2 separate regions of the Homo sapiens genome follow, and region 2 is linked to region 1. A link means that fine-mapping ties the variant in region 1 to the expression of a gene that starts in the linked region. Tissue or cell type: whole blood. Region 1 holds a variant in brackets; the other region holds the start of a gene. All regions are shown on one strand. Distances are from middle to middle.

What was found. PIP is the estimated chance that this variant, and not a neighbour inherited with it, causes the effect.
Region 2: it holds the start of TBCA, and the variant in region 1 is fine-mapped to the expression of TBCA in whole blood (INTERVAL, PIP above 0.99).

Annotation. Positions count from the first base shown.
Region 1 is chr5:77,676,540-77,686,769 of GRCh38, reverse strand. No RefSeq gene overlaps it. Among named protein-coding and RNA genes, the nearest start is that of OTP, 43 kb to the right of the region's middle. The variant G/A (reference allele first, on the strand shown) is at 4,644.
Region 2 is chr5:77,771,427-77,781,656 of GRCh38, reverse strand. TBCA (tubulin folding cofactor A) reads left to right here and starts at 5,318. Exons shown (of 4, transcript NM_004607.3): 1 at 5,318-5,452. The coding sequence starts at 5,400. RefSeq lists silencers at 5,172-5,431, 5,552-5,721 and enhancers at 6,739-7,623, 7,624-8,509.

The sequences.
Region 1 (10,230 bases):
ACACATAGTTCACAGAAGAAGAAATACAAATGGATGGGTTTTTAAAATGTTCCACTCCAGTAGTAATCATACTCAGATTTTAAAAACAAGCAAACTTTTTAAAGATAATGAATACCTCTTGTCTAGGTGTGATAAAAGTACCAGTCAATGAGCTTAGATAAGAAGATGAAATGAGAAATAAATATTGGAAAAGAGACATCATTTTCATTATATGCAGATAAGCTGTGCCCCAGGAAAACAGAGAGTCATCTGTGAAATAATCAGAAGCAATGAGGAAATTAAAATGAGTATTTACATGATATGTAGAACTGTTATGGGTTGAATTATGTTACCCAAAAAGATATGTTGAAGCCGTAACCCCCAATGCCTCAGGATGGAACCCTATTTGGAAACAGGTCCTTGCAGAAATAGTTAAGATAAGGTCTTAACTTACTAGAATAGGGTGGGCCTTTAACCCAGTATGACTGATGTTATGAGTAAGAAGACACTGTGAAGACATAGTGAGAAGGCTATATGACAACAGAGTTATGCAGCCTCAAGCCAAGTACCACCAACATGACACCAGAAGCTAAGAGAAAGGCAGGGAACAGATTCTCCCCCAAGAGCCTTCGAGGGCATGTCCTTGCAGACACCTTGATTTTGGCTTCTAGCCTCCAGAAATGTGAGACAATAGTTCGTGGTACCTTGTTACAGCAGTCCTAGAAAACAAATACATAGAACCCAAAAGCTTTTCTGTATGCCAGCAGTAGCCAAATATAATTGAAAAAAGGATTTCCAGTGAGAGTCAAAAAGACATTTAAAAAGAATGACTTGTACTGTATATGGAGAGTTAATATTGTGAAAATGTGAATTCTCTCTATGTTAATCTGTAAATTCAATGAAATAAAGCACAGAAGGGCTTTAGCAGAGGGGAGAATTTGAGGAAATGGTTCTAAAATCCAATTAAAATTTTTTTAACAGGCAAGAATGACTGCCGGGGATGGGATCTGAAAAAGAATAGTGGTAAGAGGGAACTACCTCTGCTCACTAGTAAAACTTTGTTAAGTTACAATAATTCAATGTATGGTAAAAGAAGAGAAGATCAAACAATAAGAGTCCAGAAGCAAACCCAAATTTATATGAATATAAATTTAGTATATGATAAAGGCTATTTCAGATCCTTGGGGGAAAAATATGGAGCTGGATCTCTATTTCACCTCTCACACCAAAATGCATCTCAAATGAATCAAAAATTTCAGTATAAAATGGAAAAGAAAATGTAGAAGAAAACACTGGTGAATCTAATAGACTAACAATTTTTAAGTTGATATACAATGAGGGTATAGGGAAATGGAAAATGAAACACACTGTTGGTGAGAATATTTTAAAGATGGCAATTCTCCACAAAGTAACATATATCTGTAATACAAGAAGTATTAAACTTATAAAGAGAAAAATAAGTGGTGAGACTGTTCAAGAATTGAGACAGAGTCTCCCTCTGTAGCCCAGGCTGGAGTGCAATGGTGCGATCTCGGCTCACTGCAACCTCCGCCTCCCGGGTCCTGGTTCAAGCAGTTCTCCTGCCTCAGCCTCCCCGAGTAGCTAGGATTACCGGCATGCACCACCACGCCCAGCTAATTTTTGTATTTTTAGTAGAGACGGGGTTTCGCCATGTTGGCCAGACTGGTCTTGAACTCCTGACCTCGTGATCCGCCCTCCTCGGCCTCCCAAAGTGCTGGGATTACAGGTGTGAGCCACTGTGCCCGGCCAAGAAAATCTTAAAAATGGAGAATTGGTGAGGGAGAAAGAGGATAAATGTAGGAGGCATTGCAGTTGGGTATTTGAAATTTAAAACTCCTGCATGTAAAACAGTGAAACTGGCATGAGATTGAACTGTCAGAATAAAGTAGAAAACCCACACCATACCCGAATATATATCAATACATAAATATCTGATAGAGGTGGCATCTTAAGTTCGTGGTAAAAGGATGGATAATTCCCATTCCAATAAATAGAAAAGTCAGTTCTTGAGAAAAATAAAAATAGATTTGTCTCACCTCACACAATAAAATAAAGCTTAAATAGATTAAAGAATTTATGCAACAAATATTTCTCAAACCTTTTATTAGCTAGGCATTATTCTGGTCCTGGGATGCAGTAGTGAGCAAGACAGACACAGATCTTTGCTTTTAAGGAGCATACAACTCACAGAGGTTGATAATAAATAAGCAAGAAGATATCGGAGGCATGTTCTGTGCATAAAATGAAAACAAGCTGGTGTGATAGAGAACAACCAGATGATGAGGGAAGGCCTTTCTGAAGAGATGTTTAAGCTAGGCTCTGATTCAGAACCTCAACAAAGAGAAGTGGACTGCAAGCAAAAGAAAAGCTACTCTGACGCCTAAGACAAGAAAAGGCTGGGTGAGTTCAAAGAAAGGAGACCAGTGAGGCTAGAGTTAAGTGAATGATGGGGAAAGTAGTACATGAATTTTTAGGACTTTGTAAACCAAGGAAAGAAATTAAGGTTCTATTCTAATGAGAAGCCACAGATTTTAAGCAAGAGAGTGAAATGGTTTAATTACAGCATTGTTTAAAGATCCTGTGGCTCTTAGAAACTGAGTCATAGGGGGCAAAAATGAGAGCAGAGAAAGGCTTCTGTAATAGTACAGAGTTAAATGTAAGAAATAAAACGTAAAAAACCAAGAATATTTTACTTAAGATTTAATCTGCAAATGGAAAATCAATTTCTAAAAATATAAAGACTACATTTTGTTGAACAAAAAATTGTGAATGTCTTTTTCAAAATAGAACTAACTAAATTACATAACAAACATCAGACTAGGATAAAAGATTAAGGATTTTAATAGGTAATTAATATTTTTAATATATTAGAAACAGGCATGGTGCCTCACACCCATAAACCCAGCACTTTGGGAGGCCAAGGCAGGAAGATTGCTTCAGCCTAGGAGTTTGAGGCCAGCCTGGGCAACATAGTGAGATCCCATCTCTATTAAAATATATATATGTGTATATACATACTATATATATGAAGATAGATCAGTTACTTTTAATTCGGCCATCCCCTTCTCTGTAGCCAAAGTTATATCTAGTTCTTTTTATTGGGAATTCTTAGGAAAAACTCACTTATTGAATTCTTCTCAAATCTTTTTCCTTTTTTAATAAGCTCAAAAGACATGAGTCTTCCATTTTTGTCCTCCAGCGCCTCACTAAACATCACCCACGCACACTGTCCGCACCTGTCCTCATTCCCTTTCGTCTGCCAGCACACACAAATCTTAGGGAACCTTATGGTTTCTGTTTTGTAGTCTGAAGGGAGTAGCACAGTAAGGCCAATTGGATACAAGTAAAAGCACATCGGCTGGTATTACATAGTGCTTTACATGTCTGCATGTGCCTGAGCCATCATGGAGAACAGTTGAGTATACAGTGATTAAGAGCCCTGATTCTGGAGCCAAACAACTTGAATTCAAATCTGCTTAGCTGTATGACTTCATGATTCAGCAAGTTACTTAATTTCCAAAATAAAACCTGCTGGTAAAGCAAAGCCAAAAGAAAAAGAAAAAAAGAAAAAAAGAAAAGCCATCAGAGGATGAATGTTTTTAATAAATTTAAAAAGCTCTAACCACCCAACCTAGATCAAGAAAGCAGGCACAACTGCTCCTGCTTCCACCACTGGCAACCAGCTCTGGTGAGATAAGTATCCCAGGACATGGGTATCTACCCAGAGGAAGCGAGGGGAGCGCTTGAAATGGAATTTTGAACTAATTATCATGGGAGCAAGCTGAACATTCTGAAAGCATCTGGTATCTGCCAGAGGATGGACTCAGTGAAGAAACGGAGAGAAAAATTAAGGGCAGTTTTAGAAATTAGTCTACTTGGCCAGGCGCGGTGGCTCATGCCTGTAATCCCAGCACTTTGGGAGGCCAAGGGGGTGTGGATCACGAAGTCAGGAGTTTGAGACCAGCCTGGCCAAGATGGTGAAACCCCCGTCTCTACTAAGAATACAAAAAATTAGCTGGACGTGGTGGCACGTGCCTGTAGTCCCAGCTACTCAGGAGGCTGAGGCAGGAGAATCACTTGAACCCAGGAGGCGGAGGTTGCAGTGAGCCGAGATCACGTCACTGCACTCCAGCCTGGGCGACAGAGCAAGATCTCATCTTAAAAAAAAAGAAAAAAGAAAGAAAGAAATAAGTCTACTTATTTAAAAATCTCTTTAAAAAACAAACAAAAATAATGTTACAGGTGTGTAAGAAAAGGCAAACATCCCATTAGGAAAAAAAAACAGCAAATAACATGAATAGTCAATATGTAAAAGGAGTACAAATTGCCAACAAATATATGAATGTTTATGGTCAACCTCATAAATAAGTAAAGAAATGCATATTTGAACAATGAGATTACCCTACCTTCCAGTCAATTTGACAAGGAATTTTAAAAATTCTTATATAAACATGGGAAATTTGGGGTAACAGACACTTCAGCACACCGTGGTAGAAGTAGAAATAAGCAATAAGAATATAATGCCTTGCTGGGCGCAGTGGCTCACGCCTGTAATCCCAACATTTTGGGAGGCCAAAGCAGGCAGATCACTTGAGGCCAGGAGTTCAAGACCAGCCTGACTAACATGGTGAAACCTCGTCTCT[G/A]CTAAAAATACAAAAATTAGCCAGGTGTGGTGGCAGGCATCTGTACTCCCAGCTACTTGGGAGGCTGAGGCAGGAGAATTGATTGAACCAGGACCCGAGAGGAAGAGGTTGCTGTGAGCTGAGATGGCGCCACTGCACTCCAGCCTGGGTAACAGAGTGAGACTTTGTTTCAAAAAAATAAAAATAATGCCTTAAACATGTGCATTCCCTAAAACCATTAGGTGAAATACTAATGACAAACGATATGAACGGTTTAGGCTGATAAGAGCTAAACCCTCTGATTGATTTAACGTCACTAAAACAGTGACAGCCAGACACTACAGGACTCCTAATGAGCTGCAATACAAAGAACACAGTACTGTCTCTGAAGTACTTTTGCCTAAGTGTCAAACCTGAAACTGGTCAAACCTCTGGCTCTAACTACCAGTGTATAGGAAATGCTGAGGGCAGAGGAATATATTAAATGACACCACCAGGATGTGGAAATTCTCCAGAAAAAAAGACATAGTTTTTTCAATAAATTCAAGTAAATAAATATGTGGACCTTGTTTGGACTCTCAACTTGTTCAAATACTTTTTAAAAAAAATGTGTGAAACAATTGGAGAAATTTGAACAGTTACTAATTAATCGATGATGTTAAAGAATTAATGTTAATTTATTAGGTGTGGTAATATTATTGTGATTATGTTTGTGGGGGGAAAAGAAAGGTCAAGGGGTGATATGGTTTGGCTGTGTCCCCACCCAAATCTCAATTTGAATTGTAGCTCCCATAATTCCCACGTGTTGTTGTGGGAGGGACCAGGTGGGAGATAATTTGAATCATGGGGGCAGTTTCCCCCATATTGTTCTCGTGGTAGTGAATAAGTCTCACGAGATCTGATGGGTTTATCAGGGGTTTCCGCTTTTGCGTCTTCCTCATTTTCTCTTGCCGCTGCCAGATAAGAAGTGGCTTTCGCCTCCCACCATGATTCTGAGGCCTCCTCAGCCATGTGAAACTGTAAGTCCAATTAAACCTCTTTTTCTTCCCAGTCTCGGGTATGTCTTTATCAGCAGCGTGAAAACTGACTAATAAACAGGGTAAGTGTGCCATATTTTTTAGAGATTCTGTCGAAGTGTGTATTAACTACATTACAACATGGCTGAGTTTTTCTTTCAAATAACCCAACAGGGTGTGGGATATGGAGTGGGGAGGCATAGATGAAACAAACTTGACAATGTGTTGACCACTGAAGCTCATTCATGGGTAGATATGAGTTCATCATACTCTTCTCTCTACTTTTCTATAGGTTTGTAACACTCTAAACATTGTTGATGCATACTTTTTTAAGAAAACTGTAAGGAGAGTGTAAACAAATATTTGTGACACTGGCTGCCTCAGGAGAACAGAGAAAGGAACCAGTACTGTAGAAGGGAACAGAAGGAATTTAAACTTTATCTGCACTGTTAAATTCATTCATTTTTAAAACCATTCCTGGCAGGGCGCAGTGGCTTACACCTGTAATCCCAGCACTTTGGGGAGGCCGAGGCAGGCGGATCATGAGGTCAGGAGATCGAGACCATCCTTGCTAACACGGTGAAACCCTCTCTACTAAAAATACAAAAAATACGAAAAAAAAAAAATTAGCCGGGCATGGTGGCGGGCGCCTGTAGTTCTAGCTACTTGGGAGACTGAGGCAGGACTTGAACCCGGGAGGCAGAGCTTGCAGTGAGCCGAGTGAGCCACTGCACTCCAGCCTGGGCAACAGAGCTAGACTCTGTCTAAAAAAATAAAAAATAAATAAAAAATAAACATTACTGAATATTCATTGCTCAATCTTTTCTTATCATATGACCTATGGAAAAGAAAGTTATACTTTTAATTATAGCAGAAAAGAATAAAGTAACATTATAAAATGGAAACCTTATTTTGTATAGTGCTTTATAGTTTGCAAACCTCTTTCACATTCATTGTGCAGTTTGGAACACAAATGGTATTTTCCACTTCTTCAAATCAGCCTGTGATACTTTGAAAAAAGCAGGTGGTGTTATTATGGAAACTGAGGCTTGCCAAAGGTCACAGAGATGGCACAATGAAATGTCTAATAAGTCAGCTGTGTCTGTGTAATATGAGAGAAATTCCTGTTTTATGACATTGCCATTGAGCAAGCTAACGTCCATGATTGCCTAACTCTACCATGAGTTGTTTCAAAGTAGGATGAAGAGTAAAGTGTTTAGGGCTGGGTGCAGTGGCTCATGCCTGTAATCCCAGCATTTTGGGAGGCCAAGGCAGGCAGATCACCAGAGGTCAGAAGTTCGAGACCAGCCTGGCCAACATAGTGAAACCCTGTCTCTACTAAAAATACAAAAATTAGCCGGGTGTGGTTGTGGGTGCCTGTAATCCTACTCAGGAGGCTGAGGCAGGAGAATCACTTGAACCTGGGAGGCAGAGGTTACAGTGACCTGAGATCGCGCCACTGCACTCCAGCCTGGGTGACAGAGAGAGACTCTGTCTAAAAAAAAAAAAAAAAAAAAGTAAAGTGTTTAAATAAAATAAAGAAAATATTTTTTCAAGTTTTTCAAGTAAGAATTTCTTAAGACACAAAAAAGTGAAATACTCAAAGAAAAAATTGATCAATTTGACATGAAAAAAACTACAGAAGGGAAAGACTAGTCACAAACTGGAAAAATATATTTATAATACATCTAACAAAAGATTGGTATCTAGAATATATGCATAAATCACTAAAAACCAAAAGGAAATAGCTTAATAGAAAAATAGGCAAAGAACACAAGGTGGCATTTCACAAAAGAGCCAGAAAATGATCAATAAATACTTCAAAGGAACACTTACTTCATTTGTAATCAAAGAAAGTTACAAGATAGGTGCTTTGTGCAATACTTATGTAGAAATGAGACGTAAAAGTTACTACACAGTTATAAATGCATATTTCATGTTCCAATAATAGTAAGGTGTTACCCTCTTTTGAACTGCCAAGACTCCCCCACCCTTTTTTAAAGATTTTTTTTTAGAGGAGTTTTAGGTTCACAGCAAAATTGAGTGGAAGGTACAGAGATTTCCCATACACTTTCTGACCCCACACATGCACAACCTCCCCATCATCAGCATTCCACCAGAGTGGTACATTTGTTACAACTGATGAACCTACCTTGGCACATCATGATCATCAAAAATTCATAGTTTAAGCTGGGCGCAGTGGCTTATGCCTGTAATCCCAGCACTTTGGGAGGCTGAGGTGGGCAGATCACTTGAGGTCAGGAGTTTGAGACCAGCCTGGACAACATGGTGAAACCCTGTCTCTACTAAAAGTACAAAACTCAGCCAGGCATGGTGTGCGCACCTGTAATCTGAACTACTCAAGGGGCTGAGGTAGGAGAATAGCTTGAACCCGTGAGGCGGAGGTTGCGGTGAGCCAAGATCGTGCCACTGCACTCCAGCCTGGTTTACAGAATGAGACTCCATCTCAAAAAAAAAAAATTTCATAGTTTACATTAAGGTTCACTTTTGGTGTTGTACATTCTATGTGTTTGGACAATGTTATATATCCTTCACTATAGTATTGTACAGAGCATTTTCACTGCCCTAAAAATCCTCTGTGCTTCAGCTATTCATCCTTCCTCCATCCCCTCTGCAACCCCTGGCAATCACTGATCTTTTTATTGTCTTTGTATTTTGCATTTTTCAGAATGCCATATAATTGGAATCATATAGTATGTAGCCTTTTCAGATTCACTTCTTTCACTTAGTAATATACTTTTAAGTTTCCTCCATGTCTTTTCATAGCACTGAAGGAAATTCACTGTCTGGCCAGGCATGGTGGCTCATGCCTGTAGTCCCAGCACTTTGGGAGGCTGAGGTGGGCAGATTGCTGGAGCCCAAGATTTCAAGACCAGCCTGGGCAATATGAAAACCCATCTCTACAAAAAAATACAAAGATTAGCCGGGCGTGGTGGTGCACACCTGTAGTCCTAGCTACTTGGGAGGCTGAGTTAGAAGGATCACTTGAACCCAGGAGACTGAGGCTGTCTTGAGCTGAGACTGTGCCACTGCACTCTAGTCTGGGTGACAGAGCAAGACTCTGTCTCAAAAAAAAAAAAAAAAAAAGAGAAAGAAAAAAGAATGAAAAGAAGATTTACTGTCTGGTTGTATTATAGTTTATTTATCCATTCACCTACTGAAAGACATATTGGTTGCTTCCAAGTTTTGGCAATTATGAATAAAGCAACTAAAAACATTTATGTGCAGGTTTTTGTTTGGACATAAGTTTTCAACTCCTTTAGGTAAATACCAAGGGGTGTAATTGCTGGATCATATGGTTAAGAGTATGTTTAGTTTTGTAAGAACCTCCAAACTGTCTTCGAAAGAGACTGTCACATTTTGCATTCCACCAGCAACAAATGAGAATTTTTGTTCCACATCTATGCCAGCATTTGGTATTGTCAGTGTTCTAGATTTTGACCATTCTAATAGATGTGTAGTTGTAGCTCATAGTTGTTCTAGTTTGCATTTCCCTGATGACAAATGATGTGGAGCATCGTTTCATATGATTATTTCCCATCTGTATATCTTCTTCGGTGAAGTGGTTGTTAAAGTCTTTTAGCCCATCTTAAAATTGGGTTATTTGTTTTCTTATTTTTGAGTTTTAATAGTTCATCATATATTTTGGCTAACAGCCCTTTGTGAGATGTGCCTTTTGCAAATATTTTTTTCCCAGTCTGTGGCTTGTCCTTAAAATTGGGTCATTTATTTTCTTATTGTTGAGTTTTAAGAGTTCATTGTATATTTTGGATAACAGTCCTTTATCAAATATGTCTTTTGCAAATATTTTTTCCCAGTCTGTGGCCTCTCTTCTCATTATCTTGACATTGTGTTTGCAGAGCAGAAGTTTTTAATTTCAATGAAGTATAGTTTATCAATTATTTATTTCATGGATCATGACTTTGTTCTTGTATCTAAAAAATCAACACCAAACCCAAGGTCATCTAGGTTTTCTCCTTTGTTAACTTCTAGAAGTTTTAAAGTTTTGTATTTACACTTAGGTCTATGATACATTTTGAGTTCATTCTTGTGAAGGGTGTAAAGTCTTTTGTGAAGGGTATAACTCTAGATTTTTTTTTTTTTTTTTTTGCATTTGGACATTTAGTTGTTCCAGCACCATCTGTGGAAAAGACCATGTTTGCTCCATGTTCTTACCTTTACTTCTTTGTCAAGATCATTTGACTATATTTATGTGTATCTATTTCTGGGCTTCTGTTTTGTTCTATTGGTCCACTTGTCTGTTCTTTTGCCAGTACCACAGTCTTGATTACTGCAGCTTTGTAGTAACTCTTGAATTGGGTAGTATCAGTCTTCTACCTTTGTCCTTCCCCTTCAACATGGTGTTAGTTATTCTGGGTCTTTCGGTCCTCTATATAAACTTTAGCATCAGGCCAGGTACAGTGGCTCACGCCTGTAATCCCAGCACTTTGAGAGGCCGAGGCCAGTGGATCACCTGAAGTCAGGAGTTCCAGACCTGGCCAACGTGGTGAAACCCTATCTCTACTAAAAATACAAAAATTAGCTGGGCATGGCGGCAGGTGCCTGTAATC
Region 2 (10,230 bases), 95 kb before region 1:
TTTTGGTGAGTCAAAAGTTATATGTGATTTTTGACCGCACAGGGGTTGGCACCTCTAACCACTGTGTTGTTCAAGGGTCAACTGTAGGACCTCAACCTTCCAAGATTGGCAATGCAAGAATTATCACTCAGGGAGGAGATGGCTAGACTTTTCTCTTGTTCTGCCAGATTCACTCAGTGCTGTTAATCTCTCAGATCTCTTCAACCCTAAATCTCAAAGGTGGATGGACTTATCCCTTGTAAAGACCTTTATAAACTCATTCCTGTAGTTCACCTGAGGCCAGGCTGGAATATTTAAACAGTATTCAATTAGGTTTAAGGATAACAGAACAAAAGGGTGCTAGACAGTGAGAAATGCAGCTTAGTTAGTTTCCATTTCAAATGCTGGAGGGCATCTCCCTGCCTAGATTCTGCAGGCCTCCCTACAGTTAGTACTCTCCTGAACTGACCTGAAATGGCCTTCCATCAGCCTGCCTCCTCAGAGTCCAGACCCGAAAGAGCAAAGCCCAGAGGAAGATGGTGTGTGTGGGGAGGTGGGGATTCAGGTTGTCTTAGTAGTCATCTTGCTGCAATGGGAAGTCTCTGTGACATATTATTAAATGGAAAACAAAAGGATTGTTCAAACAGCACTTATTTACATTCAAGAAATATTTATTAACTGCTGTGCGTAAGGCTTTGCTACATGTTGGGATACAGTGGTGAATAAGTCAAACATGAGTCCTTTTCATACAAAATTATGAATCAGACATGAATTCAGCATGATATCATTAACGATAATATGTACATTTTTATATTCATATGAATGTGAATTCTACCATGCTGTTAGTTTCTTATTTGGGACCTCTTTCCAAAATGACTTATTTATTTAACAAACTTTATGTTTGTTAAATATTATGTTGACAAAAAGAGTTAAACTCTGTGAAATACTTCAAGAGATTTATTCTGACCCAAATATGAGTGACCAATGGGCTGTGACATAGGCCCAGGAGATCCTGAGAACATGTGCCCAAGGTGGCCAGGTACTGGCCCAAGGTACCTCGGTGGCCCAAGGTACTGCTTGGTTTTACCCATTCTAGGGAGACATAAGACATCAATCAATACATGTAAGATGTACATTGGTTCAGTCTAGAAAGGTGGGACAACTGGAAAAGGGGGGTCATCCAGGACATAGGCAGATTCAAAGATTTTCTGATTGGCAATTGGTTGAAAGAGTTATTATCTAGAGACCTGGAATCAATAGAAAGGAAGGTCTGGGTTATGATAAGGGGTTGTGGACACCAAGGTTTTATCTTTCAGATGAGGCCTCCATGTAGCAGGCTTCAGAGAGAACAGATTGCAAATATTTCTTTTTTTCTTTTTTTTTTTTGAGACTGAGTTTTGCTCCTGTTTCCCAGGCTGGAGTGCAATGGCACAATCTCAGCCCACCACAACCTCTGCCTCCTGGGTTCAAGTGATTCTCCTGCCTCAGCCTCCCGAGTAGCTGGGATTACAGGCATGCGCCACCATGCCTGGCTAATTTTGTATTTTTAGCAGAGACAGGGTTTCACCATGTTGGTCAGGCTGGTCTCGATCTCCTGACCTCGTGATCCTCCTGCCTCAGCCTCCCAAAGTGCTGGGATTACAGGTGTGATCCACTGCACCCAGCCTGATTGCAAATATTTCTTATCAGACTTACAGAGTCTGTTCTATTGGTCTTAAGGTCACTTGTTAATGGTCAGCTGTGCTTGAATTACAAAAGAGAGGAGGGTATAAAGAGGCATGTCTGATTCCCCCTTCCCTTCGTGGGCTGACCTAGTTTTTCAGGTTAACTTTGGAATGCCCTTGGCTGAGAGGAGGGGTCCATTCAGATAGCCCGGGGTGGGGTGGGGGTTCACAATTTTATTTTGGTTTACATTCATGTGGGGCTTAATAAGTACCAGCACTATCCTAAGCACTTTACAATTATTAGCTCATTTAAGTTTTTCATCATCTACCTTTTACAGAAGAAAGAAACTGGGGCATAGAGAGGTTAAGTAACTTGTCCAATATTACACAGTTAGTAAGATGCAGAGCTAGGATTGACCCCAGGCAGTCTAGTCCCAGGGTTCACATTCTTAACCACTATTGTAAACTCCTGAAACCTGAAACAAGTCTTTCTGATTCTTATCCTTAAAGGCGGCGCCAAACTCCTTAATCTTAACCCATAGACTCAAGAATACAATATAGAATGGTTGTCCCCTGATATCTGTGGGGTATTGGTTACAGAACTGCTAAGGATATCAAAACTCATGCTTGAGTGCACACAGAAGTTCCCTAGTTGGCCCTAAGAAACCCACAGAAAAGTGGGCCTTGCCTATATGTGGGTTTCTGCATCCTGGGAATACTGTATTTTCCATCCTTGTCTGGTTGTGGATGCAAAACCTGCCAATATGGAGGGCTGACTGTATTTATTGAAAAAACTCTTCTTCTAAGTGGGCCTGTTGCCAGAAAGCAGTCCCCATCCAGACCCCAGGAGCAAGTTCTTGTATCTCGTGCAAGAAAGAATTTGGGGCAAGTCTATAAAGTGAAATGAAGTTTATTAAGAAAGTAAAAAAATGAAAGAACGGCTACTGAATACAGCAGTGGCATGGGCTGCTTGACTGAGTATACTTATGGTTGTTTCTTGATTATATGCTAAACAAGGGGTGGATTATTCATGAGCTTTCCAGGAAAGGGTGGGGAGTTCCTGGGACTGAGGGTTCCTTTCCTTTTTAGACCATATAGGGTAACTTCCAGGTATTGCCATGGTATTTGTAAATAGTCAGGGTGCTGGTGGGAGTTTATTTTATTATGCTAATACATTATAATTAGCATATAATGAACATTGAGGACAACCAGAAAACACTTTTGTCACCATCTTGGTTTCGGTGGGGTTTGGCCAGCTTCTTTACAGCATCCTGTTTTATCAGCAGGGTCTTTGTGGTCTGTGTCTAGTGAAACCAGTCCTGCCAACCTCCCATCTTATCCTGTGATTAAGAATGCCTAACCTCCTGGGAAGAGAGCCCAGCAGATCTCAGCCTCATATTACCCAGACCCTATTCAAGATGGAGTTGCTTTGGTTCAAACACCTCTGACACACCTGCACAATTCGAAACTGTTGTTCAAGGGTCAACTGTATACACAGACACAGATAAACTCACAAAGTGTCCTCCAGAGCCTGGGAATGGGCCTGGAAACACACAATGGCAGTAGCAGCAGAGGTCTTTTGGCTGCTGACATTTACTGATTATTGATTTATAGTAAAGGCACAGATACAAATCAATTAAAACAAAGAGAAAGGGGGCAAAAGGAGGGAGGCAGAATTGGGGATTGGGGGGAAATAGCAGGTATTTGTATTGGGAAGCCTAGTTTGAGAGAAACTCCTGCAAATTAGCACAAAACTGAGCTCTGAGCTTCTTGAAACCAAAGCAAAAAAGGAAAATATGACGAGTTACATGGTTTTTGCTACCTAATCAAAGGAAAGACCTTAACGGTAGCAAAAGCCCTAGCTGCACCATCTTTTGGTTTGTGGCTTGTAGCTGCTGTTTGTGTGTGTGTGTGTGTGTGTTTGTGTGTGTGTGTGCATGTCATTTTGCTTTGGTAAGTTTGCTGTTGTGTTTTATCTACCCCTCCCTCCAGTATTTCACAGCGCTGCTGTGTGACTTGGAATTGCACATCAGTATACCAGCCAGCAGAATAAAAATATTTATTGAATTCTGTGCCCATTGTGCACAAAACACAGGTGGAGGAGGTTGGGGAAGGAAGATTTATGGAAGACAAGAATCTTGCCTCTAAACATGTTTATGAACCAGGATTTATAACTACGAAGCTGAACAAAACCCTTACGAAGGACCAAACAATAATTTGAAAAAGAAATATACTAAAAATAATGATGACTACTGGGTGACTCCAAAGCATCCAGGGAAGATTGAACAGGTGGGGTGAGTCATAGTAGACTTTGCTCAGTTTTGATCCTGGATTTAAAGTAACGGCCTTGGGCTGGCGGGATAGAAGGGGATTCCAGGACCAGTCATGAAAGTGAGAATGAGTAAGTCAGGCTAGGGAAGGAAAAAGACAGTCATATGGGTGTCTTTGAAGGATGGTACCAAGAAATTTTAAAAAGGGGGTGGGCTCGGTGGCTCATGACTGTAATCCCAGCACTTTTGGAGGGTGAGGTGGGCCTCACCTGAGGTCAGGAGTTCTAGCCAGCCTGGCCAACGTGGTGAAACCCCGTTTCTACTAAAAATACAAAAAAAAAAAAAAAAAAAAATTAGCCAGGCATAGTGGAACGCGCCTATAATTCCAGCTACTCTAGGGGCTGAGGCAGGAGAATCACTTGAACCCAGGAGGCGGAGGTTGCAGTGAGCCGAGATCAAGCCACTGCACGACAGAGTGAGAATCTGTCTCAAAAAAAAAAAAAAGAAAAAGAAAAAGAAAAGCAATTTTAAAAAGGGCGATTCTGCCCTGTATTCCTCAGGAGATTCTCTTAGGAAGGGACTGCTAGAGCTCACTGTAGATGTGCCTCATTTTATGCAACAAATATATTTTTGAACATATAAAATAGTCAAATGTTGTTCAGCATCTACCATGCGTCAGACAATGAGCTAGGTGTTTTAACCCTTATACCTAATCTGTAAAATGGACATTATTATTTCCATTTTGCAGACTGATCAGCTGCAAGGCTAAACAGCATACGTATCAGTGTTGTCTAGCTAATAGTCTAGCTATTAAAGGGTGGAACCTCGATTGTAAGCCGGTTTGTCTGATTAGGAAGCCCAAGGTTTTGTGTGCGACACACATTCTTGTAAGTTAAATATTTAGGATACACTATAAGTGATCATCTGAAGAAGTTCTGTTAGTCATTTCCTTTGAAAGGCACGTTATCTACAAACCTTCTTGCAGGGATTTGAGGTAAAGGGCAAGGATTTTCTTGACTGCGTGCATGATGGCAGTTTGTTTCACTACACATGCATCACTCTGCCTCATCTGACACCAGATAACGACATCGAAAATACCCTTAATACATTTTTTAGGTCACTCCGTCCATTAAGCAGATAATCCCGCAAAGCAACGTCCCAGAGAGACGTTAGTTTCCCCAAAGGCCCAGGCTGTGGAGACCGGGATAGTGTAACTTGCGCCTGAAGTAAAAAGAGGGGCAGTCCGAGAGAGAGGAGGAGGGCACGTTTCACTACGGGTAAAGGGGCGCACGAGGGGTAAAGGGACTGGCGGGAGCAGGGTACCGCCCTCTAGTAAACCCGCCCCGCGGGGCGTGGCGGGGACGACGGGCCGCGCAGCCTGCGCATGCGCGCCGGCGACCACGCCTAAATAGCCGCAGCCTCTGCGCGTCGCCCTCCACGGTTACCCCGGCTCTCCGCCCCTCCTTCTCGCGGCGCTCGAGGGACCATGGCCGATCCTCGCGTGAGACAGATCAAGATCAAGACCGGCGTGGTGAAGCGGTAAGGAGCCGGGAGCGGCGCCCTGCACCTCCTCTTCGTCACCTCATGGCGGCCCGCGAGGCTGAGCGGAGCGCAGGCCCGAGGAGGCCCGAGGCGGGCTCCGAACTCCAGGCCGCACCCGGGGCTCCGCAGTTGGCTGGGACTGGCAGGGACCCAGCGGGGCGCGCTGACGCCCGAGCCCGCCAGCCTCGCACGCCGCTTCCCGTCCCTCTCCGCTCACTGGCCGCTCTGATTTGCCGGAAGAGTCGGCGGTGGCCCGGTTTCTCGGCGCCCGCGGTGGGAAGGTGGTGGGCCGCGGCCTGCGAGGGCGGGCCGGGCCCTGATCCCGTGCCTCCTGTGTGCGCGCGCCGGCCTCTCCTTGCTGAACTTGGCCCGGGGAAGCGGGATCCCAGCTGTGCTCTCAAATGGGCTTGAAAGCAGGCTCTGAAGTTTAGGGGGATGCGGAGGATCTGGGCCTCGTCAAAAAAGACCGTAGTGGAGCCGTGTGACCTAACATGGCTGGCGTGACTGGCAGGCTTTGAGAACTGGGCCTGAACTTCTAGCACACTCAGCAAACTTATGTGGCCTCACTTTCTCCAGTCAGATTCCCCGAAGCTCGCCCCAGAGGCTGTGAGATGCTGTTTAAATAACTTGTGAACCAGAAGTATCTGAGACAGGTCTTAATTTGGAATGTTTATTTTGCCAAGGACGTGCCCATGACACAGCCTCAGGAGGTCCTGATGACATGTGCCCAAGGCGGTTGGGGCACAGCTTGGTGTAATACGTTTTAGGGAGACCTCAGATATTAGTCAATGGGTAAGGTGTACCTTGGTTCCCTCCAGAAAGGCAGGACAACTAGAAGGTTGGGGGGCATCCAGGTCATAGATAAGAGACAAATGGTTGCATTCTTTTGAGTCTTTGATCAGCTTTTCACTTAATACACAATTTACATGTGAGAGAGGGATAGAAGAATAGTCACTTATGCCTTAGTCGGCTAAATGAATCTGCGATTTTACATACACAGTAGGGCAGAGGAAGCAGTCAGTTACGCATTTGTCTCAGGTGGGTAGAGGGGTGACTTTGAGTTCTGTTCTTTGTCCCATACCTGTGAAGATAAGCTATCAATTTACATTGCCAGGGTGAAATACAACAGAACTGTTTTAGAGTGAAGGTCTTGAGGCCCACAAGGAATTTCCTTGGGGGCAAATTGTCAGGGAGGTATGTAGCTTTTTTTTTTTTTTTTTTAATCTTTGTAGCTATCTTATTCAGGAATAAAATGAGAGGCAGGTTTGCTCGATGCAATTCCCAGCTTGACTTTTCTTTTTGGCTTAGTGATTTTGGGGTCCTGAGATTTATTTTTCCTTTCACAAACTCATGGGTAGTGCAGTCCTGTAATTTGCTTAAATTCCTGTAAACCAAGAAAGTACCTGAGACAGGTCTCAATCAGTTTAGAAGTTTATTTTGCCAAGGTTAAGGATATGCCTGTGACAGCCTCAGGAAGTCCTGATGACATGTGCCCGAGGTGGTCAGGCTACAGCTTGGTTTTATACATTTTAGGGAGACAGAAGACATCAATCAATACATGTACGATGTACATTGGTTTGATCTGGAAAGGCAGGACAACCCAAAGCGGGCTGGGGACAGTTCCAAGTTATAGGAGGTTTTCCAATTGGCAGTTCGTTGAAAGAGTTTATCTTAAGACCTGGAATCAATACAAGGGAGTGTGTCTGGGTTAAAATAAAGGGGTTGTGGAGATCAAGGTTCTTATTAGGCAGATGAAGCCTCCAGGTAGCAGGCTTCAGAGAGAATAGATTGTAAATGTTTCTTATCAGACTTAAAAAGGTCCCAGACTCCTAGTTAATTTTCTAGTGGATCAGGAAAAAGACCTGGACAGGGAAGAGGGTTCTCTACAGAATATAGATTTTCCCCTTAAGAGACATCTTTGCAGGGCCAATTCAAAATATGTAAAGAAATATATTTTAGAGTAAAATGCTTTTATTTCTTTCAGATCCCGCTATCTGTCCTGTGATGCCATACTAGAGTAAAGCTGGAATTTGGTGTCTTATTGTTACAAAAAGCCTTAAGATCTGTTTTAATGTTAATGCTGCTCAATTGTTCCTGAGTTCCAAAGGGAGGAATGTGTAATGAGACATGTCTGACCCCCTCTTCCCATCATGGCCTGAATTACTTTAGAATGCCCTTAGTTGAGAGGAGGGGTCCATTCAGACGGTTTTGGAGCTTAGAATTTTGTTTTTAGTTTGCATTCCTGAGTGCTGGTAGACCCTTCAGTGTTCATTAGAACTTTATTGTTCAGACCCAAGAAGAGCAAACTTTTTGATGAAGTATTACAAGAGAAAAGATAAACAGCCTTCTGAAGAAGCAAGTTATTTTGTTGTAGCAATGTCTACTAAAGAAACCAACTGGCTTCTTCCTGTTCGCCCACCTTTCCTTTGTTTATTGATATTTCCACCAGAGGAAGGACCAGGCAAAAGGGAGAATAAATTCACTTTTTAAGATAATGCTTCTGAGTTTTAGCACAGCATCCCACTTCCCGGGAAGCTTTATTGCCAAGGCAATAAGGAGACCATGTGAGTAGGAGTTAAATGCACAGCCATTTGTGAAGTGAGACTGCTTGGGTTCAGATCTTGATTCTGCCCTTTATTCTATGTTGTGGAATATATTACATTGTGCTGTGCCTCTTTTACCTTATTTGTAAAATAGAGCAAGCACCCAACTCAAGCAGTTGTTGCAAGAACTGCCTGCTATGCTGTTTAATACAGTATGTGGCAAATAGCAAGTGGGTAGTAAATGTTAATAATACTGTTTGGATTCTCATTTTACATATGAGAAACTGAGGTTTAATGAAGTTAAAAAAAGAAAAAAAAAACTTGTCTAAAGTCACACTACTAGTTAGTGGCAATGCAAGGAAAAGGACCAAGGTTTCAAATCTACAACTTTCTCCTTTAAGCTACAGTGCTCCCGTAAAGAGTATTTTTAAAATTGGTAATAGGAAGGGAATTGAGATGTATATTTGAAAATATAAATAATCCATCCTGTCCCTCAGCTCAGAGTTCTTTTTACCAGACTTTTACCAGACTGGTTCACTTTTACCAGACTTGCTTGGGTTATGTCATTTTAGTCAGTATATTTGGCAGAACTATCAGGGTGTGTTGCAGAGTGCTGTAGAATGAAAGTCATGAGAAATGACTTCTAATGGTAGTTTCCCATTCATTTACTTATATGACCTTGACATTTCTCATTCCAGTGATCTCTACTAGTTTATAAAATTACTTAGTTCAAGTAGTTATATGCTGACAATACATATTCTAGAGAAAATACTCATTGAGATTATTATAAACTAAGTTTTTGACTTTTCAGAAGTTTTCAATGCTTATGTAAACTGCTTAGAAATAAATTTATCATTTTATGAAACTTGGTGATAGTTTACTATTATCTCAAATTGCTTATAAATTAATGGAAGTGTCTCCCATACATTTTAAAATGACTTTTCTGTTGACATTTTGGGGTATAGCTTCCCACTTATGTATTAAAATGCAATTAAAGAAAAACCCCTAAACTTTCTGTTTTAGCTGCTTGTTACTCACATTTTGCCTTGGTATATCACCATCTAACTCCATAAATATTGTCCCCTATTGTCTCTTGTTATTTTTCACCTGAAAATTATTTTGCTATGACTCTTTCCATCTTCTACCTTAGTATCCTATTTTTATTTTATTATTATTTATTTTTATTTTACTTTAAGTTCTGGGATACATGTGCTGAACGTGCAGTTTTGTTATATAGGTACACATGTGCCATGGTGATATGCTGCACCTGTCGACCCGTCATCTAGGTTTTAAACCCTGCAACCTATTTTTAAAAATCTATATTTTACCTCAGCAAAGTAAAAAATAGATGAGGCAGCAATGGTAACATATTACTAATTGTTGGGGCTGAATGATCATGGGGCTTCATTATATTTTTCTGTACATAAGTTGAACATTTTTCATGATAAAAAGGGTCTAAAAGATATGCTTTTTTCCTCCTCTCTCCAAATTTAGTTTCAAAGATACCTTAATTCATGATTCAGACATGTTCTTGCTTTTGTGAAAGGGATTCTATTCTTTTCTTTTTTTTTTTTTAATCAATGGTTTAAAAACCTATCCTCGACACTATTTTAAATCTGTTCTTGACACTCTTTTTCTGGTTAGACGTTCATTTTCCATAGCCTCATTTATCTTCGGAAGTCACAACCTTTATTTGGAAGAAGAGGTTTAAAGTCATTATTCATGCCCCAAATCCTTCAATTTTCTCTCTAGAAATTGAGAGCAACTAGAAATTATATTCTAGGTATTTGTCCTAGAGTTCAGTTTGGGTAGGCTATACTAGAAAGGGTGGATTAATTTAGTTTCTGATTAGACCTGGTGGAACACTTCAGGTGACTCAGAAGTTCCTGATAGTGGGTCTGAGGAAGAAATGTGGACAGGCAGGTTGAATGTTAGGGGAATATGGAAACAGGCAATAAGTAGATGATGGTATTTGGCGTGTAGGAGATCCAGCCATGCGTGCAAGACGGCCATTTCAGCATGTTGGCAAAATGGCAGAGTTGACCTAATGGATAGCAGCCCACATTATAAAGTAGAAACAAGTTTCAGGGCCAGTATTTTTAGGCCCTGGGAAAATAGGCCGGAGGTTTACGGTGAGTGTCTTGTTCCTAGAGAAACTTTGTTACCTTGTACAGTAAATGGCAAAGCATCTGATTTCTGGGAAGTGAGTTTCAAGAGAGAGAGGTTAGATTA